3 linked regions of the Homo sapiens genome follow. The protein of the gene in region 1 interacts with the protein of each later gene in a biochemical or structural test. Each region holds a gene or a part of one and is shown in the gene's direction. Other genes may lie near its edges.

Evidence for each region.
Region 2: the proteins of SH3PXD2A (region 1) and SOS1 interact in a biophysical measurement, tested with the Homo sapiens proteins (one study listed by IntAct).
Region 3: the proteins of SH3PXD2A (region 1) and AFAP1L2 form a complex in vitro, tested with the Homo sapiens proteins (one study listed by BioGRID).

Annotation. Positions count from the first base shown.
Region 1 is NC_000010.11:103,851,528-103,860,561, reverse strand, and holds the start of SH3PXD2A (SH3 and PX domain-containing protein 2A), read left to right. Parts: upstream 1-4,985; 5' UTR 4,986-5,295; coding exon 5,296-5,367; intron 5,368-9,034. UniProt on the Homo sapiens protein: Adapter protein involved in invadopodia and podosome formation, extracellular matrix degradation and invasiveness of some cancer cells. Binds matrix metalloproteinases (ADAMs), NADPH oxidases (NOXs) and phosphoinositides.
Region 2 is NC_000002.12:38,980,158-38,985,820, reverse strand, and holds the end of SOS1 (son of sevenless homolog 1), read left to right. Parts: 3' UTR 1-457; coding exon of another isoform or gene 458-511; 3' UTR 512-4,272; downstream 4,273-5,663.
Region 3 is NC_000010.11:114,309,450-114,318,109, reverse strand, and holds part of AFAP1L2 (actin filament-associated protein 1-like 2), read left to right. Parts: intron 1-2,344; coding exon 2,345-2,550; intron 2,551-4,059; coding exon 4,060-4,239; intron 4,240-7,666; coding exon 7,667-7,756; intron 7,757-8,660. UniProt on the Homo sapiens protein: May play a role in a signaling cascade by enhancing the kinase activity of SRC. Contributes to SRC-regulated transcription activation.

The DNA of each region.
Region 1 (9,034 bases):
CTGAAAGAGACGTGTGGATTCAAACAGGACAAAGAACAGTAATTTCTATGCCATTTCTGAATAGAGAATTGAAAAAAAAAAGACAGGATAAAACCAAAACCAGATTCATATTTTTGGTTATTTGTGGCTTCAGGCTATTTTTAAAGAAACTGCCTTTGAATTCCCCCTGGTATTTTTCTTTTCTATTCTTTTTGTCTTCCAGAGGCCAACTCAGGGTTTGCTGGATTCTGGAAAATCCAGGGGATTTTGAAAAAGAAAATCTGTGGTGGTTTATCACTAAAACAGAACTATACAGGCTGATCTTTTATACCCAGATGATGCTGGCAACCCCCTCCCAGCCAGGAATACACGTCAAGGTGTGTTCAATTGTTGAGATAGACTGTATGAAACCACCCACACTCGTTCCTGAAGGTCTTAAAACACAATGCACTAGTTTGGGGGCCAGATGTCTGGTCAGGGTTAGGGATGCAGCCTGGAGTTATGGAATAATATTGTTTTCCTCTGTGAATCTAATTATGCCCTTGGCCTCTTTGGCTGTGCAAGTTCCCGGATTTCCCTCTGGTATTCCAGGGCGTGACCACTTGCTAAGGCTGGAATTTCAAGTGGTTCTATCAAAACCTGCTGCTGCACACGGACCCTCACCGGAATCCAGGCTAAGACAGGAGAGTGAGACTCTCAAGGGACCGTGTAAAGAAGCATGTTGAGATTTTGCTGATGAACTTACTGTGCTGGGTGTCAGACGGAGGCGGCTTCCACCATCTGGTAGTTTGGCAACAGGAGGGGCCTGTTAGTATGGCTAAAATTCGTGAACAGTGGGGCTGGGTGGTAGGGCAGTTCTGGGGCCATATCCTGGTCCTGTTCCCCAGCAAGGAGAGGAGAAGCCTGACAAGCAATTTACTTCCCTGGGCAGTTGGCCTTGCTGTCTGCTCCACACTCCGGTGGGACCGTCCTCAAGACACTCCCCAAACATAAGTCAATAAATATATCAGGGCTGATTTGAGAGAGAAAGGGAGTGGGGGAGAAGAAAAAGGAGGAGGAGGATGAGAAGAAGCAGAGACAGAAGCATGAGCGCTGGACCGCTTACAGTCTGTAGAAGGGCAGGTTATTCGTCCCAGGCCCTCCTGCCTGTCCCTGTGGCAGGAGGTAAAAGTGCTAAAACCACTTTGGCCAGAAGAGGGCCCCAAATTTCACTCAAATTTACACAACTCGGGGAGAGTCTTGCTAGACCTCAGTTTATGTAAGTTATCCACCACTGTACAGCATGGAAAGGGCCAGAAAGAGCACCAGAGACCCAGACGTGGGAAAGAACTTCAAGGTCACAGGCTGGTTTGTGGTTAAGCCAGGAGTAGAACCCAGGTTGGGTAATTCCTGCTCTGAGACTCCAATTCTTCTTCTTCTTAGGCATTACTTAGCCCCAGCATTATCTACAAATATCTGCTGAGATCCCAGTAATTTAAAAAGACAACCATTTATTGAGGGCCTGGCATGTATAAAGCTCTGCGCTGGGTGGGCAGGTGTGTGTGGCAGGTGACAGAGGTGCTGGATGATGGGGGTGGGGAGGGAAAGGGTGGTGTCCATGTCTAAGTTCATGGTCCTCAAGGCCTTCAAAGGCTTCTTACTGGTTTAGAAGGCACAACCTAAAGCACAGGAAAGTTAAATAACAATAAAAGATATAAATAAGGTTCAATACAGTGAAGGCTGAGCTGTCATAGGGTGATGTATGATTAGTAAACAAATGTATGATTAGCAATTGTCATTCGATTTCTGAAGAGGAAGAGAAGGTTCTCTTGTGCTTTCATATAGCCCACTGTGGTTTCCAGTACTTTCCTGCATGTTGTCTTCTTTGGGGGTGGTCACAAAGACCCTACATGGGAGAGGAGGTAGGGCGGGTTCTGCTTTAGGGGAGCTGATGGAATTTGCACGTACACAGAGGACCATGGAGACACACACGGCCTCTGCTCTAGAGGATTGTACAGTCCTCTTTATTGGGAAGTCCAGGCATCACGAGTTCATATGCTTGTGTGAATGGAGAACTGGAACCAGGGACTCCAGGGTTTGAGTGAATGCAACATTCTAGACCTGCAGGTGTGCTAAGTGTGCCCTTTAAACAAGCTCTTCTTGCCCTAGTATAGGCACATAAATGTGGAGGGGAAAGACAGCGGGCTTTGGACTAACTGGCTATGTGGCATCAAGCAACTTGCTTAGTTTTTCTTGGCCTTGGTTTCTTCCTCTGTAAAATAAGAGAAATAAATAACCTCTCTTGTCCCTTCTAGTTGGAAAGTTCTTTGATTCTAAGCATTCTACAATTACCTGTTTTCGAAAATCAGATTTTCAGGTATCAGTTTGCATCTTTATGTTGGCTTCTCTTTCCCTTACTTATCCTAAACTTAAAAAAAAATTTGCAATTATATTTTGTCATTTTTAACTCACACAATGTCCTTAGGTTGGAGTCATCTCCAGTTCATGGGCGGAGGTGGCAAAATAGGGGTTTCTCTAATCCTTTCTAGCACTAGCTCTTTGAGCAGATGTTTTCAACACAGGCCATCCTATATACCTACTGTGTGCCACGCATAGTTGGGGTATTTAATGAATGATGCACAGTCCTTGTTTCCAAGGAAACTTCCCCCAGTCTCTGTCATTTTTGGGGGATTGCCAGGCACATGTGAGGCATTCAATAAATGTGTATTGAACAGAAAGGAATTCCCAAGGCACTGTGGGAAATAAATCTGCATGAGGTTGAAATGTACCCAGAGAAGAGATAGCCTGCACCATTTCATACTTAAATCCCCTTGGACATACGGCCCCAGTACAGAAAAGACATTTTTCTCCCACAGGTAGAAATAACTTCTGCCCAGATCTTGGCACCATGGGGTTGAGTGGGGAGCACTCAGTTGCTCCCTCCAATAAAGGTAATTACGGAACAAAGGGGGAAGTTGGGAGTATGCTCAAGTCAGGCTTAAAGGCCTGAATTTATAAAATGTCAAGTTGCAGGGAGTCTTTTAGGCAGGAGAAAGGCTACCACTTTGTAGGCCGCTAGGAAGTGGGGAAGAACTGGGCCCTCTCTCCTACAAATTTATTGTGCTTGGTGTGTTCATTGTGGATCTGGGTCCGAAAGAAGGGTAATAAGGAAACCACTAGTGCTGTTTTAGATGAGCTGACTGCTTTGATTCACAAGGGGACCCAAATCAAACTAAACCCCCTCCTCTTCTTCCCCCCACAACAGCTAAACACCAGCTCCCCTCGCTGGTGGCTTCTCAGGTTTTATTAGCACTTCCAGAAGACTTTGCCATCCACAGAAGACGAGTTATCCGAGAGCCATGATGAATCTCTTCCTCACAAACTCACAGGCTGTCTTGATCCATCATCAGAGAGGACCTGGAGCTGGCCAGCACCCTCCCAAGTTCGGGAGCTCAATATGGAGGGCCCGTTCCAGGTCTACCTCTCATCCCTTCAGGGAATAATCCTTGCTCATGGAGGTAGTGCCCTGTCCTCCCATTTTCCCATCAGCTGAGCAACATTACCAGGTGCACCTTCCCCCAGGACTCCTGCTCCAACATTCACAAAGGTTTTCTGTCATCTTCTCTGACCAAGAAGCTCTGGCCTGGTGCCAAGATCTCTCACAGTCTGAGCCCCCTAGGCCCATCCATCTTTTTTTTTCTTTGTCCCGTGCCATCGTTTGGTGTCCTAGCGCCCTTCCCCAGGAAGGTTGGAGGAATAGTGGGTTACTCTGTATGGAGCAAATATGTGAATAAATAAAGCCTTAGATCTGTGCCTGGGTTCTGACAGTCTAGAGAACGCGCAGAAGAAAGTATTAATGCAATTAGGTCACAAAATTATTTGTCCTCTTTTCAGATGTTTCACATTGGTCCACAGTCACAAAGCTTTATTGTGATTGTGTAACAACTGGAGTAGTTGTGAAAACACTACCCTTTAAATGTTTGAAAGCAGAATGGGAAAAAAATGTTGAACTAGAAGGGGGGAAGCTACATTGAATTAAGTAGTAACTGTGCTCCAAGTCCAGGGACCACGGACAAGTGGCTTGGAAAGTGGGTTTTCCAGACTAGAGGGAGGGGTGAGAATGCCAGAGCCTGGGGCTCACGGTGAGCTGGCCTCCAACCGGGTGGGTTTTCCCACCATTGTATGCTCCTTTCCCTGTCGCCAGCTTGGGGAGGGTCCCCAGGGGAGCCCTGGGCTTAAGGCAGTGGTGTTATGCAGAGTCTGTAACGTTGTCATTGGTAAATGATGCACAGGGTAGTTACACAAGCCCAGATCGATGGACGACTCAGGCAACGAATCGATCACTTTTCCGGGGAGAATTCACCCTTTATGACCTGCAGAGGGTCAGGTGGTTCGTCCAAAGAGGCTCTGGCTTGAAGGATTTAAAGCTGGCCTTTTCCCCATTCCCATCTCCTCCTCGGGGGCCTGGGCAGTAACAGCCGGGTAATAAACTACTTCTCATTAAAGAGATCTGGGGGTGGAAGTTGTAGGGGGACATAAAAGTGGGGACAAAAAGGCACAAATCCGCTCCGAGGCGGAAAGCCAGGATGGGGGCGCGCGGGGCTCACTTTCCCCGCTCCCTCTCCCCCCGAAGCCACCCTGAGTTTTTGTGCCTAGCGAACTAGCCCGGTGCTGCGCCAGGCCGCTGGCTGCGCGCTGGGCTCGGGTGGGGGCTCGTCGGCCCGCCCCTGCCACTGGGGCCGGGCTGCAGCCCCCTCCCCGTCGCCCCGAGCCCCTCCCCCGGCCCGGAGCCCCTCCCCGCGCGCTTCCCCTCTCTCCCCTCCCTCCCTTCCCTTCCCTGCCTGCCAGGCCCTGCCTCCGCCTCCTGCGCCCACAGCCTCCGCCAGCGCCGATCCCCCCGGAGCCCGAGCCGGAGAGCGGCGAAGGGGAGCCGCCGGCCCCTCCCCAGGACGCTGACAGCAGGCTCCGGGGCCCCCGCCCCGTCCCCTCGCCGACGGGACACACCCCCGCCCCTCCTCTGCTCCGCCAGTTCCCGCCGGACCCACCGGGCGGCGGAGAGAGCGAGCGGGCGAGCGCAGCGCGGCGGCCGCGCGGGAGTGAAGGGGCGCGCGGCAGGCCGGCGGGGAGTCCCCCGGGGCGCACGGAGCCCGCGCGCCCTCCGGGACCCTCCCCCGTCCCTGGGCCGGACCTGTGGGCGCCGGGAGTCCGGGCAGCGTTCGGCGCGCCGGGCCGGGGTGGCGGGCGGCCCCGGGACCCCGGCAGCTGGAGAAGGAGCCGGAGCCCGGCCGGGATGAGAAGGTGACGCCGCCGGGGGCGCCACTCGCTTTGTGGGGGAAGATGCTCGCCTACTGCGTGCAGGATGCCACCGTGGTGGACGTGGAGAAGCGGAGGAACCCCTCCAAGCACTACGTGAGTACAGCCCCCGCCGACCCTGCTGGGGGTGGCCCGAGGTCCCGGGAGGGCCCCGGATGGCCCCTTGCCCCTCCCAGCTGTGAGGTCGCGAAGCTAAGCGCCCACTGGGCAGCCAGCAGCCGTGGAGTTTCTTCGCAGGGCTGTGATCTCCAGGGAAGCCTCTTCTGTCCTTCCTCCTTCGCACCCCCGCCCCCCCGGTTTCTTTTTTTGGCATTGGAATTGGCAAGTGGCTGCCCTTGTCTGTTACAACGGTGAAGTCATCTGTCCGCCTTTGATGGATGGTGGGGGGAGCTTTCGTCAACCCCTCACAGAGCAGCCCCGTCGGGAAAGCGCATCTCCTCGGCCCTCCCCAGGGGCCCTGGGCGCTCACGCTCACACAGCCCGAGATGCTTTCAGAGCTCGCCCTGGAGAAGGAAGCCTCGCGCCCTGCCTCCCACGCCAGCTCTGTCTCTGCCTTCCTAGGCCTGGGGCTGGGGGCAGAAGGAAGCCGCCGCCCCCTTGCCCAACCTCCACCCTCCGCGCTAAGCTTTGATTTCCCTCATAAAGCCATTGTGTCCGTCGGTGTGAGGAGAATTGTGGCTTTTCCTTTTATCCCTCCTCTGGACGTGACCCTTAACCGGGTTCATTTCCTCTTAAGTGATGCTCCATCTCCAGACACGAGGAGGCGAATGTTTGCTGTGGTCTCCGAGGAACCGCCCCTCCCCCTTCCTCCCCCAAACTTTAATGAGAAGGGGTTAAGGTTGACTGGGGCAGCTCCAGAGCCTATGTGACAGTTCCCCTTTCATCTCAGCCGGTCCTGTCTTCCCATCCCTCACACCTTAGGAAGTAAACACGGTGTCCTTGACCCCTCTGAGCGTCTGTGCTCCTGTACTTGAGATAGAAGAGACCCAAGCACAGAGGACTGCATGTTATTTGCAAATTGGGTATTTAGAGGAGCAGTTCCAGTGCTCAAAGCATTAATCTTAACAGTTAAAACAGGCGCTGGTTGCTGCCCTGGATTGTACATTGATCTCTGAAGTGCCTTTTCTTCCACTGTTGCAAAGGGACTGGGGTTTGTGGCAATGTCAGCCTCGGGCTACTCTTTTTGCCTTTGTCACCAGTGTAGCTCTGAACTTTGAGTTTCTTTACAGCTGAGCAAATGCGGCTGGGCTCATATGGGGAGGAGGTAAATGTGGAGGCAGGTTGACTAGGCAGGGAGGTGGGTGCCTGTCGGGTCCAGTCCCTGACACCCTTAGAGAGTTGTTTCTTTTGTGTCATCTGGTCCAGCAAGCATTTTCTGCTGCTGTTACAAGAAAGCTCTTTTTGGAGGGCTTGGGTCACCAGGTGGTCAACCTGCTCTGTGGACAGATGTCCCTTTGTATATCCCAGGGTTTATTTTTCTCAAATGTTGCAGGCTAAGTTTTAAGGGTTCTCATTTGTAGTCCTCAGCTGAGCTTGGCACTGCATTCAACAGATGGCACTCTGCTCTGAGACCCAGGCAGGTGCGTTTCCAACTCTGGATTTTAAATGAAACATCACATTTCAGCTCCCACCGATGGTGCCCAAGGTTGCAGATGCAGGACACACTGGTAACAAACTAGAACCGGGGCCCACTGCAGACAGGATTGAAAGGCAAGATTGCGTGCTGGGGTTCTGAAGTTAGACGGTCTTGCTCAAAGCCTGGCATGCAGCCAGTAACTAGCTGTGCCACCTTGGCAAGTTATTTAAACCTCCCCCAGCCTCAGTTTACTCAATTTCAAGTAAGGATAATAATAGTATGTACTTGTTGGGAGAATTAAATGAGATCATCTATGTAAAGCACTTAGCCCAGTTCCTGGCACGCAGTAAGCTCTTATTAAATGGTAGCTTATTATTGGTGAGATTCTGACTAAGAAAGTATTTTTGAAAAGCAGCTATTAATGGTCTGGCAAAAAGGAAGAAAGATTTTGGGTTTTAAGATTGATAATAACTTGTTCTATGTGAAAAACACAAAAGAAGTCCTGTCCAGTTCCCTCGAAATGATCATTTCCTTCCTTTTTACAGACAAAGTGTTTCCCGGGACATCTCCGCTTCCCGAGTAAGAATCGATGACATTATGTTTGGGGGGGCAGGGAGTGATGTCACTGAACAGATGGGGCCATGCAGAGTTCTGAACTAGAGTTCTGGAAAACACTGAGAGGAGAAAGTGTTACATGTTGTGGAATTGTGGAACGGGCAGAGACCCGAAGACTCATCTGGCTCAACTCCTTCATTTTACAGATGAGGAAATGGAGAGCCAGATTGGGTAAAGTAACTTGCAACACAGCTGCTCACAGCTGGGTTTTTTTCATTGCATGTACCCTAAGTCCAGTTGGGTTTGGCTAAGAGGACAAATAACTGGTGGTCAAAAAGTTTCTACCCATTTGGGGCATTGTATATATTAATACATAACATAAGCATATCCAATAATTGAAAGGGGGAAAGAAAGCAATAGAAAGGGCCTGGTGGGACAGACAGGGGCAGGAGGAGCGGGTTTGGGGAGGCTGCAGCCTCTTCCTCTCCTGGCCCTTGCACGGTGAATACCACACACCAAAAGCTCAAGTGTTGTGAGTAAGGCCCTCTGGTGTGGTCAGCTGGCAGGACGTGCTGCACCCATTGCCTGTGTTCTGGAAACCCTCTACACTGGAGGAGCAAGCCTCCTTCCAGCCTTTCCTCTGCTGATGGTGAATTCTGAGTCTGTGGTTTGGTAAATTGCAGAGCAGAGAGGTTTTACGGGATGTGCGTGTTAGCCAGAGCTAGCCGATGAGAGGCCTGGGGCCCACGCAGGAGGAGCTCTGCTGGCTCCAGAGTGCTGGGAACACACTGCAAAGGTTCTCTCAGGACATTCTGCAAAGGGTTTGCTCATCCCCACGGGGAGGGGGAGCTGCCTGAACACGAAGGGTCCTGTGCTTTCGGTCAGTTCATGAAGGCACGCAAGTAGCTTCCATCATGGGGATGGCACTCAGCCCTGGCTTCCTTCTTCTCTGCCAGGCCCCTGCTTGGGGTGGGGTTGAGAAGGGCAGGCAGCTGCTACTAAGGTCAGGCTCCCTGGCATGAAGCTAGGCTCCTTTCCTGGCTTTCTGAGCTGTGCCTGGGGAGACCCTAGGTAAACTGGCTTTGGCCTCTGACCGCTTGTCTTGAAAATGGTCCTGATGATGCTGGATGCAGAATGCAGATTCCTTCGTTTGAAAGTTTTTCAGTAAAGATTTGAATTCAGGTCCACCGGGTTCTTTGTGCTCACAGGCAGGTATAGGTATATATCAATTCATGTGGTAGAGAAAAGCTCGTTTATCTAAAACAAACAAGAAATTGTATCTATTTGGATTTGGGAGGTATTGCACTTTCACAGTTGTTTTATTTCCTGATTGTTTATTTCAGACAAATACCAATCATGAATGTTCTGATCCTCTGCAGGACTCTTTGGGGAATGCAAATAATAGCCAGTTTAGCAGTTACCATCGATGGTGAAACATACTTAACACTCGTGTTTTCGTGTGATTCCTGCAGGTCATTGAATGTACCCTAATGTGGGGTAGGTTTTTGGATTCTGTTTTACAGATGAATTAACTGCAACTTGGAGCAATTCACCAACTTGCTTAGGGTCTCGCAGCTGGCACAGGGCAGAGCTAGGGCAATGCAGGTCAGGTTAGCTCCAAAGGAGGATGTG
Region 2 (5,663 bases), on another chromosome or scaffold:
CCTCTGTACTGGGATGTATATTTTCCTAGCCCCAAATCCATTGCTGGCAATGGATGCACTGAATGTGCCAGCACTGAGGAGTTAAAATGAGAACTCCAAACACTAACGACTCTTCTTCAAGATGCAGTATAAGACAATGAATTTTAACCTAGATGTAATTATACAATGGAAATGGTATTCCAGTTTAGAATATGGAAAGACCGACCTAGAGGAATTGGACAACTGATTGCACCTGAAAATCATAAAGGGACTTTTTCTGGCCAATAGGCAGGAGTCCTCTTTTTGTGAAGTGATCTTTTGTGAAGTGATCATTAAAGGGATGGAAAACACAGTCTAGTGTCCAGCAGGCCCACATGACAGTTTTTGTAATTCAAATTATGCACTTTTAAAAAAAAAAACTTAAACAGGGATCTTAATATCTTCCTTTGTTTTCCTTTGCTTTACTCTTCTACTTTAGAATATTTTCTTAAAAATCACTCAAAGGACTGTGAGGAAAGGCTGTGGTACCTGACCTTGTTGAAATCAAGGCCCGGCACTGTACTACAGGCCTGTTTACAGATTATTACGGTGAACTGAATGGGTACCGAGGCTTCACCAAAGAGGTACTTTTTTGTTGTTGTTGTTGTTTTAGGAATAATTGTACCAATTTTAAGAGCATTCCCCCCACCTGTCCCCACACACCCAAACAAAATGTGGTGGTGTTGCCTTCAAAAAAGAGAAGTTTTGTGTCATTAACATGACAGAAGAACTTTTTAAAAAAAAATAACTGTCAACTATTCTATTTGCATTTAGGAGACTGTTCATCTATGCTAGATTGTCATTTTCCCTCCTTCTCCCACAGAAGTTTACTGGTAGTCCATGTCATGGCTCGTAGCTATCCCTCTAACCATACCATGGAAATGCAGGCACCCAATGTGAAAAGGAGCACTTGCTGGGCATCACTGACACCGCTCATGTTTTACACATAGTTGAGTAATCAGCATATCTAGAATTATCTTGCATTGCCTAAATCATATGTATATAGTGAATGTTATATAATATACCTGGCAGGTCTGTTTTAATTTAATTGAATAAAGATACAAATACTTTGTTTGGCTGGCATATATTAAATTATTATATGAAGAAAATGGTTGATTCTTATTTCTTTTAGTTGAAAAACACACAAAAACACTAAACATAAAAGCACGTTTTGTGGTACGCCTTGGTTTCTAGTTCTGGATATATGTATTAATCTTAAAGAATGATCTAAAGTCACAGCTTGGCATATAGGAAGATACTTGGTTAGAATAGGATGGGTATCTTTTAAGCAGAACTTTGTAAGTAAGTTTTAAGTTCCTAAGCAACAAGTATACAGTTTGTTAAGGTTTATATTGAACATTCTACCTTGCTTGAGGTTTTCTGCTTTATCAAAACTATTCATAATAGAACATCTACCTGCATCATTACTATCATAATATGGATTATTCATAAAGCGTATGTACTGTTCTTCTGAGTCTAACAAATACTGTGACTGAAATGCATGCACCTTGTTGAAGAGAAAACATTTTATTAATCTCCACTATAATGTCTGTGAAATGTGCAGTATTCCATCCTTAGAGAGTTTATCTGGTTCATCAGCATCTGCATGTATCCTCTGAATAATGAAGCAACATTTCAGCAATTCTGTTAACCACACCATTAGAGACATTTTTAGAAGTGCTGCAACATGGTGGGAACCTAGTACTTTAATAATTTCCTATGATATTTATTAGAGCATAAAATGTACATCACGATAGTACAGTATGTAGTCCTTTAAGACCAGAAGGTATGTTAACTGCACCATCATTAAGCAGTCTATCCTATTTTCTTATTTATTTGTTAGAATTGAATCCTTTCTCAATATCTGTACCATTCCTATGATGGTAGCCATTCTTCTCTTTATAAAATATTTCCTCTTTGAAAAGCGTCCTAAAACATTAATTTCAAATCCCCTCTTGGATGCAAAGTGTCCCTAAGACCATCCATTCAACAGTATTTATGTGAGCCAACTTACTAGAGCCGCTACAACTAATCATGATAGACAGTCCAGAATCTCCCTGGACTTTATACTGGGCCAGCCTCATTGTCCCTAAGATTTCTCTTTTTATGTCTCATGGATTACTTCTCTTTTTAATTGCCCCAGGCACATTCCAAATGAGAACCTGGTAAAAGTCACATTGGACCCCCTTCAGTATGTCTTCGGCTAATGTGTTAGCCTTCAATAAGGTGATAACCCCTTTTCAACCTATCTAGTCTATAAAGAGGAAAAATTCAGATTTGGAGTTCTAATCCTATTTCTCCCAAAGGGAACTATTCTTCTACCCCATGGTTCTAGGAGACCACTTCACTGTGCAACAGTTTTACATGCATTGTGGATGGAGGATATTTTTATTCTGAACTGTTACATTTAGGTAAAAATATTTTCTGCAGTGGTAACTGATTAGAAAAATGCCAATTGGATGCCCTTAGGTGGAGGTGAGAAAATGGCATCCTTGCCTTCTTCTCAATATGAAACATTAACTAGTTGACAAATTTATCCTTGTAGTAATGAAAATCTATTTAATCAGGGACCAGAAATGGCTGAGGAGATAAATGCATCATTACAAAATTCTGCTTTTGAATCCTGGACATTACAAGGGGGTAAATGCAGCATGACTTTTTGTTAACCACATTCCAAAATGTGGAACATTTCTTTTAGAAATGAAAATATTTCAAGGCTGATGTATTTTAAGACTACACATTATCAGGAAACATACATTGAGAGTTCGCTTAATTAAAGGTTGTTGGGCATCAAATTATGTTTAGTAGGTTACTATTCTCTAACAACTCAAGGATGCTTTAATGGATCTGAATTTGACAAAGAGCATGCCACACTAATACTACAGTCAACAACAGCCCAGAGAACAATTACTATGTCAGCTGGAGGCTATATTATGATTCTAAATTCTTAAAGGTTTTTTTCCCTCCATAAATCAAAAATTACCTTATGTAAACCAAAAATTAGTTGGTATTTATGGTCATGATCTTAATTCTCAAGTTTAGCTTAATCTTGTATTTCATTGTTTGTCTTCTAATATGACAGCTTAAATTCAGATTTTTAAGTGACTCAGCAAAATAGGAGGAGTGTCCCAATTTATTAGTGTTGTACATATTGAAGAAAACCTTTTTGTTCCTTCAGATTTAGAAAGAAACAGTTTAACCATTTATTTCTTGGTATTCTGCTGCTGTGAATAGGTTTACTTATTCTTTTAACATATATTGTGTGACTACGCAAGTATAGGTCCTGTTGTATTGCATTAATCTTTACCAGTAACTAAACATCACAAGGTTAATATTGGTTTGGCTGAAAGAATTATGCAGTAAAGTTATTTATAAGGGAACATGATGACTTTATTCAATATTTTTCTTCTTTGAAACATCTCATTACTAACTTTTAAGATTATTTCATAATCCCTTATACATGAGCCAATGAAATATTTTGAGCTCTACTTAAGAAGCATGAAGTCTATATTATAAATCTAAACAACAAAAGCACTTGTAACTTGTTTAGTAAATTCCATGCCTTATTTTCCATTTTTGACACCGTAAAGTGCATTTTCTGTCGACTGTGAGCAAATTTCCCTTTTGCCTTTAATGAAAATAGTGCATTAAGTAGCCAATTGCTGCAGAATTATAAAGCAAATTAGCTAACAGTGGGTCACATTGGACTACCACTCAAAGAAACAAGATGCATAACAGATGATGGAAGGTACATGTGGTGTGGCTTAGGGAGAGCGCACCTGTGCCAGATGCATGCCACTTTCAGTAGCTGCCAAATGTGCCTTTAATTAAGAACATCTCTAATTTTTTTCTTCAGATCAAGTCAGCATTTGGGGTCGGGATTTGGGCAGGGAACTTTGGGGTGCAAATATCTGGTGAAACCACCAGAGAATTTGTTTGTCAAAGTGACATGTATAATTTTAGTTGAGACGTGTTTGTGTATATATGTGTATTTGCCTTTGTTTAGTAGCACGGTTATTTGCTAAAATAATTGTCAAAAAATTGCTCTGTCGGTCGGTCTTTGATGTAAGAACAAAGTGTGGTCTATACATCTAATATGGCCTTTGTACCTAACCATGTTCATAGGTAATCTTTGTACTCTGTGTGCAGCAGTATTTGGTTTGCATTTAAAGTGAAAATAACGGCTGTTATTTTTCTGGCATTACTAAGATAAACTGAAAAATAATAAAGAAAAATGCCTTACATAGCCCACAAGTGTATTATTTTTGCATGTATTTATTTTAGAGGGCAGTATTTTTGAAATCATTAGTGATTCTCATTTAGCTCATATATGCCATATAGAAATATTTTGCATTTTTATTGTGGTCTTTCTTTGGAGGCACTTTTTTCCTGTATCAAGTTATAAAAGGATAAAAGAAGTTCCACATTTCCTCTGTGTCAAATCTGCTGATTGATTGTAGTGAGTGGGAGGCCTCTGGGATGAAAACTAGTAATTTAAAGTGACCTTGAGTGTCACCTGGATGAAGTTTCAGAGTGCTAAGGCATTTGTATTCCATAAAAGAAGTTTTGAGATATCACGTTCCCTGACAGGCAGCTTTTGCTGAGATCTGCTGGAATGAGGTAGCCTGACCTTTAGCAATTCTTTTTCTAGGCTTGGCATGAAAATGTGAGTTTAGGGTTGTAACTAAAGAATGATGCAAATGTACCGTCATTCAGTGTGAACTATAGGATGTAAAAATTGATGAATCCTTAGAGAGCCAATCCCCTGATTTAAAAATTAAGGTAGATGAGGCCTAGAGAAATGAGATGACTTAGCCAATATCATGTGGCAGTCCAAGCATGAATTATCGAGTATATTCTAGGTAATAAATTTAATAGTTATAGGACAATAATGTTTTTGTTAAACTTGATTCTGAATTTTCTCTTGAATTATCACTTATTCTGAGCTTTAACCCAGTGATTTACTTTTTAACTTATTTTAATCCTCTTAGGTCATCGCAGATTAGTCTGTTTGGTACAGTCCATAGTTAAGCCTGCCTTTTTGCTGATAGCTGCACATGGTGTCCAGAGGGAAGGATGGCTTCAATACAGAGTACAATTCCAAAAAAGCAGTTTATGGCCATTCTAACATTTTAGGACTCTTGATTCTTACTGGAGGCAAGAAAAACTGTAGCCCACTTAACAGCTAATTTCTCTACCTCAGTAACTCATCAAGAAAAGGAAGAATCAATGTGATAGGAACAAGCAGGTGCTTTGGAATCATGTCTTTGCAGAAGTTAGTTATTTAATCTGTTTCTCATCAATACAAGGAGGTTAACAGATGTACTGTTTGAGGCTATTATGAGGTTTAAAGGTAATATGTGTAAAGCACATGCCTTTCACAGAGTAGGTGCTTAGTAAATGCTAACTAAAGTTACGAGGGATGCATTGTCAAAGTTTACTGGCTTTTAGGTATCTTCTAAGAGGTTGGTTGCTTATTCTGAAGCCCTCATAATTTGATTCTTTATGATTTCCTTTGCTGTTTATCATCACTTAAATTAGTTCTGAGTGACCTTAGGTTATAAGCATTTGATAAGGGCCCATCTGACTATTCAGCATTCAACAAATATTTATTCTTCAGGTACAATTCTGATATTAGGAATATG
Region 3 (8,660 bases), about 10 Mb from region 1:
TCTATGTTGCTTGCAGTGCTGATCTGTTTGCATGTATAGTTCTAACTGTGCTTTCTCCCTTATCATACCTTAGGGAGTTTATCCAGCTGCACACTAGTTTTCAGAGTTTTAAATGATTACAGTTGCATGGACATGACTAAGTGGGTAAAATCATGCTTTACTTACCCAGTCCCCTTCTGCTGACTGCTAAACAGCATTTGAATGAATATCCTAATGCATGTAACATTCTTTCCCACTCCCGCCCTTTTTTTTGAGACTGTCTCACTCTGTTGCGCAGGCTGGAGTGCCAGTGGCACGATCTCAGTTCATTGTAACCTTCGCCTCCTGGGCTCAAGCCATCCTCCCACCTCAGCCTCCCAAGTAGCTGGGACTACAGGTGCATACCACCATGCCCAGCTAATTTTTGTATTTTTTTTAGAGATGGGGTTCTGCCATGCTGCCCAGGCTGGTCTTGAACTCCTGAGCTCAAGTGATCCACCTGCCTTGGCCTCCCAGAATGCCAGAATTACAGGTGTGAGCCACCACGCCTGGCCCCTTCTCTTTTTAAAAAACTAGTTTCCTAGGATAAAATACCAGGACTGGGATTATTGGATCAAAGAGTATGGGTGTTTTTTATGGCTCTTGAAACAGGCTGCCAGACTGCTTTCTGAGAAGCCTGTGTTAATTTACGTTGTCACCTATAACGTAAGAGTTCAGGGTTCCATCCTGGGTAATACTGCTATTTTCAGTCTTATTTAATAGGTATAAATTATACACTTTTATATTAAGCCATTAAGAGAAGTAGTGTCACATGGCTTTTAAAGAAAATTGATACTAAAATGTTTAAAATGTTGTTTTTAGAAATATTAAAACACATTTTCACTGGCACTGTTGCTAGAATAACTATTGCAGAGGCCTCATCCCATTTTTCTATATTCTGTTTCAAATGTGCTTCTTAGTAAAATCAAACGTGCTTCTTAGTAAAATCGACAACATTTTATCTAGCTATACAGATAGGAGAAAGGGCTTCTGGATTCTTCTGCCAAGACTTACGGGTCTATGGGCTGGTCCTCTTCTGAAGGGTGTCATGGGAATGAAGGCAGAGTGTCATTCAGCCTGACTCAAGGGGACAGAACAAGGACTGCCATGCGGAAGTCAGGGAAATAGATGCTGAGTCCATTTCCTAACTGACAGGGCTGCCGGGAATGGGAGTATCCAGGGATCAGGAGATAGTGAGCCCTCCGTGGGAAATTTGGGCAGAGCATCAAGGTTATGATAGACAGGATTCCTGTGCCAGGGGTTGGACTGAAATCCTGAGGTTCCCTTTCCTCCATGTCCTGCTTTTCAGGGATAGATGGATGGATGAATAGAGAGAGAGATAGATCAATCAATCGATGGACAGATGAACTGATTGATTTTTCTTCACATGGTTTTTGTTTTGTCCTTGAATAGAGCAGTAGGACTTGGGAACAGAATAGCTCTTGCAGGGTGGTGGGGGCAGAAACTAGAAACTGAGGCAGTTGGGGTATGCGTAGAATCGTGCATGATTTGTGCTCTGATGAGTTTTAGGATTCTTTCAAAACAAAAGAGGAAGGGTTTAAGTTAGACACTAGTAAAAGGAGCTACATTTGTGCCAGGAGGTATTAGGCAGGGAGGGAGAGCAAGCAGTGTCTGTGGAGGGTATGAGTGGAGGTTTGAAGAAGGGCTATGACTGGGAGAGGGTATTTGGGAGTAAGAAGGTGGCCCCTTTCCCCAGAAAGTGTTTCCTGCTGTGGTTTATTTGGACTTTTATTTCTGAGGAGCCACAGCCCCTTCCCCAGATCTAGGACTGAGCCAGGCCCAGCCAGGCCAGCGGCCATCAGAGGCCTGCCTCACATACAGCTCAGGTGGAGCACGGATGGCGTTCTCTTCCTCCTGAGCCCTTGGAATGCCAGAGGCCAGGCCTGGGAGAACCTGGCAACATCCCACCCCACGCCTTTCATCTTTCATTTGAGGAATTAGAGGCCCCGAGTAGGAGAACTGGCCTTGTCAAGAGCAAACAGTTGGTCTGTGGGGCAGTGTCTTCTCAGGGTTTCTGTGGAGTTGGGAGTGACAGGATTTGAGGAAGAAAAGGGAGAGACTTTGGTTTTCAGTTATTTGTGTTTTGTGGCCACAGGCAGCATCCAAGAAGCCTTGCTGAGGGGTTTGGGGGCAGGAAAGCCAGCCCTGGGATCTGGCTGCTGGCTGTGGGGCTGCTTTGAGGGCAGGGAGAGTCGGGGGCTGTGGTCTGGCTGCTGCTGCTCCTGCCTGCTGCCCTCCCCAGCGATGCTGCTTCAGGACTGTCCCCTGCCCCATGGGGCCCTGACCGAGCTGGTCTTCCTTGCAGAGGACGGAGAGGCTGTGAGCAGCTCCTACGAGTCCTACGATGAAGAGGACGGCAGCAAGGGCAAGTCGGCCCCTTACCAGTGGCCCTCGCCGGAGGCCGGCATCGAGCTGATGCGTGACGCCCGCATCTGCGCCTTCCTGTGGCGCAAGAAGTGGCTGGGACAGTGGGCCAAGCAGCTCTGTGTCATCAAGGACAACAGGCTTCTGGTCAGTCTGCCTTACGTCGTCTTGTCCCCCGACTCCTCTCCTTGGGGAAGGGGCAGGGACAGGGAAGGAGGGACAGGATGGTCCCTGACCTCAGAGGTTTCGAGCTTGTTTATGTCAGGAGATTTTAACTTCTCCCTAATCTGAAATTGTATACAGGATTTTGTGTGTATGGATGAATGTACTTTTTCTGAACCAGAAAGGTCTAGTAGTTTCATCAAGTTCTCAAAGGGGGTTGTGACTACCACCGCCTCCCCCATCCCCATCCCATCCTCCTCTTTGTGAGACAGATACATCTTTCTGTCCCCTGGTCCTTTTTCACATCCTGTCCGCTGGAGTCCAGTCAGGCTCCTCCAGCCCAGCCCCAATTCTGGCTACTGTTTTTTGTTGTTGTTTTGTTTTGTTTGTTTGTTGTTGTTTTTGAGACAGAGTCTTGCTCTGTCGCCCAGGCTGCAGTGCAGTGGCGCAATCTTGGCTCACTGCAAGCTCCACCTCCTGGGTTCAAGTGATTCTCCTGCCTCAGCCTCCTGAGTAGCTGGGATTACAGGCGCCCGCCACCACGCCTGGCTAATTTATGTATTTTTAGTAGAGACGGGGTTTCACCATGTTGGTCAGGCTGGTCTCGAACTCCGGACTTTGTGATCTGCCTGCCTCAGCCTCCCAAAGTGCTGGGTTTACAGGCGTGAGCCACTGCGCCCAGCCCTGGCTACTGTTTTTATCTGTGCAGCATGAGAATGCTAGGTATCTTCTCAGAAGCAACAATATTTTGAATTAGTGATTACAAGACCAGACCCAGCAAGGAACCAGACATTACTCTGACAACAGTCCTGTTTCCTGCTATTTTAAATTAAAATTCCCAGTTGCGTGTCCTGATTTGAAATTCCACGGAATTATTATAAACACCTTTTCTTGCCTGGTTACAACAGGCCCTGCTCCGTGCCAATGTTATTTCAAGTAATCCTTTTAAGCAACCCTGTAACCCCATTTTACAAATGGGAAGCCAAGGGATAAAGTATTTTCTCTAGTAGGGGAAGAGTCCTTCCTTTCTTTGTTAATACATCATCTTCCTAACTAGGCAGATAAGAGGCTTAGTTTTTGTGCCTTATGGATCCTTTACTCCAGAAGCCAAGCAAGCAATACAGAGAGGTGGAGAAACAGTGAAAGTCTGTCCACTTTGGAGAACTGAACGGTGAACACAGAGGACGTATTTTAGGCCCTCCAGGCCTGGGGCAAGTTTGAGCCATTTGGATGGCAGCATCCTGGAGCATCCTTGGCTGAGGCCAGTGAGAAGGAGGCTTGAGGGAGAGAGGGACAATCTGATGTGAAGAACAGGAGTTGCTGATATTTGAGGTTAAGGCTCCAGGCCTGCTTCGGGGTGTCCAGCCTCTTAGTCTTGCTGGGTTAAGTCAGGCTCTTGGTGAGTCCTGCAACGTCCAGCGGCCCCTCCTTTGCAGACATCACCTCCGCCCGGCACCCCTGGCAAAGTGGTGTATCTTCTCTCTTTCCTTCCAGTGCTACAAATCCTCCAAGGACCACAGCCCTCAGCTGGACGTGAACCTACTGGGCAGCAGCGTCATTCACAAGGAGAAGCAAGTGCGGAAGAAGGAGCACAAGCTGAAGATCACGCCGATGAATGCCGATGTGATTGTGCTGGGCCTGCAGAGCAAGGACCAGGCTGAGCAGTGGCTCAGGGTGAGGGCGACACCGAGCCACTTGGAGGGGTTCCTAGAGTTGTGGCCCCCAGCTTTTCTAAAGGGATGGATGATAGGGTCAGGGGTAGAGGATTTGTGATCCTTCAAGTTTGCAGGGCTTCCTGTGTTCTAAGTGGTAACGATCTGTCTTCTGCAAATGGGTTACAGCGTGCTGCTGCCAGTTCTGAATCCCCAGTAGCCCGGACTTGGGTGCAGTTGAAATCCATTTCCCTTTTTGCCTTTAGTGAGGCATCCCCCTCCTCCTTATTAAAGAAGAATACATGTCGCTGCCATTTGCCACGTATTTGCCATAGACCCAGGACTATTAGCATCTTTAACCCACGTAACCACACTGGGGATGGCTGGGGAATGTTCATGTCCCCATTTTACAGGAGTGGTGATTAAGGCTCAAAGGATGGAGGTGATGGATCAAAGTCGTCTGCCAAGTGGTGGCAGCATTGGTTCTCAGACCGAGGCCCGTCTACACAGTGCTGTGCCTCCTCCCACCACGAATGCACGTGGCCCACTCTGCCCACGCGTCCCTGGGTGTGATTATGAGGCACTTGGGGAGGGGCTTGCTTGCCTCAGGTGAAAGCTGGGCTTGATGCTTCCAGCGGATGTAAAGTTTGCACCAGGAATGGATCCCCAGTTCCAGAGGGACCTCCAAACCCAGCAGGGACCCTGGTGAGGCCAGTGAGAGCCAGAGCAGCCCTTCCCCTCCTTCCTGCTGCCCCTCCCCTCCTTCCTGCTGCCCCCTCTCCCATCACAACCACTTCAGCCCAGAAGCGTTCTATCCACCCCGCACCCCACCCCACTCCACCTGCCACCCAGCTAAACATAACCACCTTGGCGAGCCTGTCAGAAACAGATCTGGACCGCTGTGGTAAAACAGGACCTCAGTACCCGCCTGAGGCACTGGTCCACCCCTAGGCTGAGTATCCTAGATTTGGAGCAGGCAGGCTGTTTTTGTAAATCCACTAATTGTTTTGGAAATGCCAGGCCTGTCCTAACCAAGCTTCTAGAAGGTGCTGACAGGTATCCCCATCTTTATTGCAAAATCTTCAAGTGGTGAAAGACAGTGGTATGTAGAAAAAGGCCACTGCATAGACAGGTTTGTGGTTTGGCTTCACAGATCTCCATGTAGGGTGGGGTTCCTGAGAGAGCTAACAAGCTCTGAAAGGCCAGCCCTGGGCATTTAAGAGCCAGGGCTCTGAGTTCAAATCCTGGCTTCACCCCTGTTTAGCTGAGTGATTTGGGGCTGGATCCTTTAATGTGCACAAAGTGCTTAGCACTGTGCTTGGTATATACTGAGTGCTCCGTGAAACTTGGATAGTACAGATAAGACCACTGAGGCCCAGAGGGAATGGGGGGCTTGTCCTGGGCTGCAGAGCTGATTAGGACCCAGAGCTCTGGGCTGTTGGTTTCTTACCCCAGTCTCCTGCCTCACCCACTACACACACATACTCATTTGCACACATATATGCACACATGCACATTCATGTATACATTTGTACACACACGGACAAATGCACATGTATGCACATTTGCATACACATTTTTGCTCATGCATGCATTGCGCATGTATATGTACACACACACACACACACACACACACACACACACACACACACACACACTCTGCTCTTGCCCCCAGTTCCCCGCTCTGTTCCTCTGACTGCTCAAATCCACCGATCTTCTCCCTGGCCCCTAGCCTCCCTCCCCAAACTCTCACGCCCTCTTCCTGAGGCCCCTGGCCCCATAGCCTCTGCTGGTGGTTTCAAAGACAAGAACGCTTTCAGCAGGCACAGACTTTCTGTGTCCAGCCTCCACAGAGAGACCCTTCCCCCCAGCTCAGACAAGTGCAGAGGTGGACTTGGCTGGAAATGCCTGCTCTCAGAAGCCGCCCACTCTTGCGCTTTGGCAGTGGGGGCTGGTCCACCTGTCTGATGGGCTCTCCACCTACCTGCATTGGCTTTGTGAAGCCCATCTACCTTCCTTGGACCTCTGTGTCCCAATTCTGCATATCCGCACCCATGCCCAGGGTGAGACAGGTATATGACAGTAAACGGGAGATGCTGACTATGGGACGACGGTCCCAGTAAAGGAAGGCACAAGGCAGGGCTTTTCCCAGGAAGCATGACCCTGCCCCCGCCCCACTCCTGAACTCCTGGCTTAGTGGCACTTTCCCTGGGCAGGGCCATCCGTGTATTTGGCCCAAGCTAATAGGGATGGTAATCCATGTGCCTGCCCTGTGCTGGGTGCTTGACATACAAGCGCTCACAGCTGGCTCGTGGCAAAGGTATTGACCCAGCTTACAGATGCAGTGGCTGAGGCTCAGGCTCAATGTCACACAGGTGCCAACCCTAGTGCCTGTGCTCTTCCTATGACACTGGGTTGCATATTCAGTGTGGACCACAGTCCCGAACTGGAGTTCTTGGGCTCTTCTGATTTGAAACCCATTTCCACAAACTGCTCTAGGCATAGACTGAAAGAGGGGGATCTATGAAATCACTCTAACTAATTCTGCGTTTCCAAAGGGCTTCCAGGTGGGTAGTGTGTTTCTGGTCGCCCTGGGAGTTCCCCCGGCAAGAAGGGAGTGCCCCTGGCTCAGACTGAGGCAATGCTTTCATAGTCAGAGCCACTGCTGACTTTCTGCATCTGCCCCCAGCCCAGGCTCTGTTCCTCTGACTGCCCAAACCCACCTATCCTTTTCCGGACCCAGCCTCCCTTCCCAGAGTCTCACGCCCTCTTCCTGAGACCCCCTGCCCCATAGCCTCTGCTTGGGGTTTCAAAGACAAGAACGCTTTCAGAAGGCACAGCCTTTCTGTGTCCAGCCTTTACAGAGAGACCCTCTTCCTCCACTGGTCAATGAAGCCAGTGAAGAGGCCCCTTCCCAGAGGCGGGCGGGCGGGTGGGTGGCGGCAGGCGAGTCGGGAGAGCCAGAGGGTGGTTGGAACAAGGGAGTTTGCAGGCCTGCTCCTCAGGCAGCGTGGAGACTCCACAGAGAGTTGCATGACCTCTGAAAAGCCAGAGGACTGTCTAGCAAGGCAGTTGTTGATCACGCCTGCAACAGAACAGTAGCCCTGCCTGGAATGGTGGCAGGAAAGGGGCTCGCGGAGCCCTGGGCTGGTGGCTCTGGTCATCTTTGGCCTTTGCTGCCAAGGCCCCCCCTCGCATGCCCATGAACGTGTGGGACCTGCGGAAAGGAGCTAAACAACGAGCCCTCCCCACTGCAGCCTGCCCAGCTGGGTCTGAGGCCACATGCAGGCCTTGGGGCTGGGGTCGGGTGGGTCCTCTTCCTTGGAAATTCATCTTCTCTCTCACCTCCACCCACTCTCCCCTGACCTGCAGGGGCCCTGGCTTCAGCCTGGCTGTGAGTGCTGGCCAGAGGACCTCAGCCTCTGCTGACGGCTTCCCTCTTGCCTCAGGTCATCCAGGAAGTGAGCGGCCTGCCTTCCGAAGGAGCATCTGAAGGAAACCAGTACACCCCGGATGCCCAGCGCTTTAACTGCCAGAAAGTAAGCCTCTGCCCTGCCTGGAGGGAGAGTCCCCTTCCATGTTTTCTCTGTAAAAATTAAAAGTGCAAAATTGGGAGCTTCGTTTTTATATTTCAGTCCAATTAATAAGAAACATACAATGCTTGAGGCCGGGCAGGGTGGGCTCACGCCTGTAAGCCAAGCACTTTGGGAGGCTGAGGCAGGTGGATCACCTGAAGTCAGGGATTTGAGACCAGCCTGGCCAACATGGTGAAACCGTGCCTTTACTAAAAATACAAAAATAGCCAGGCGTGGTGGTGGGCGCCTGTAATCCCAGCTACTCGGGAGCCTGAGGCAGGAGAATCACTTGAACCCAGGAGGCGGAGGTTGCAGTGAGCTGAGATAGCGCCAGTGCACTCCAGCCTGGGTGACAGAGGGAGACTCCATCTCAAAAAAAGAAAAAAGAGAAGAAGAAACATACACTGCTTGGAAAAGAGGAGTAACTCTAGCTTGGCAGGAAAATGGAGGAAACGGATACAGACCTAAAATATTTTCTTGCTTGTAGGTGCCGGGGGTGGGCGAATGGGGAGACAGGGGGAAGCTTTATTGGAACAACAGTCACTTTGGCCTGCATTCTTAAGTAGGGAGATTGATTTTATGAGGCACTTCCTTTCCCCTTATTCCTCAGTAGCGCCTCTGGGCTTGGGGCACTATCTCAAGGCTGATTGCAACCAAAGGGCTGTAGTCCTCATTTGCATGGTGCTTTCGGGGAGCTTTAGGCTTAAAGGTCAAGGCTGAAAAAGTTGAATTAGGTTCTGGCCAAAAGGAGGATCATCACCTGTGGGGTCACATTTCCTGTCCCTGAGTACCTGCAGGTAGGTGTCCTGAAGCGTGGGCACACATAGAACAGCCAGAACATCACTGTGGCTCCTCTTGGGGTCCCCAC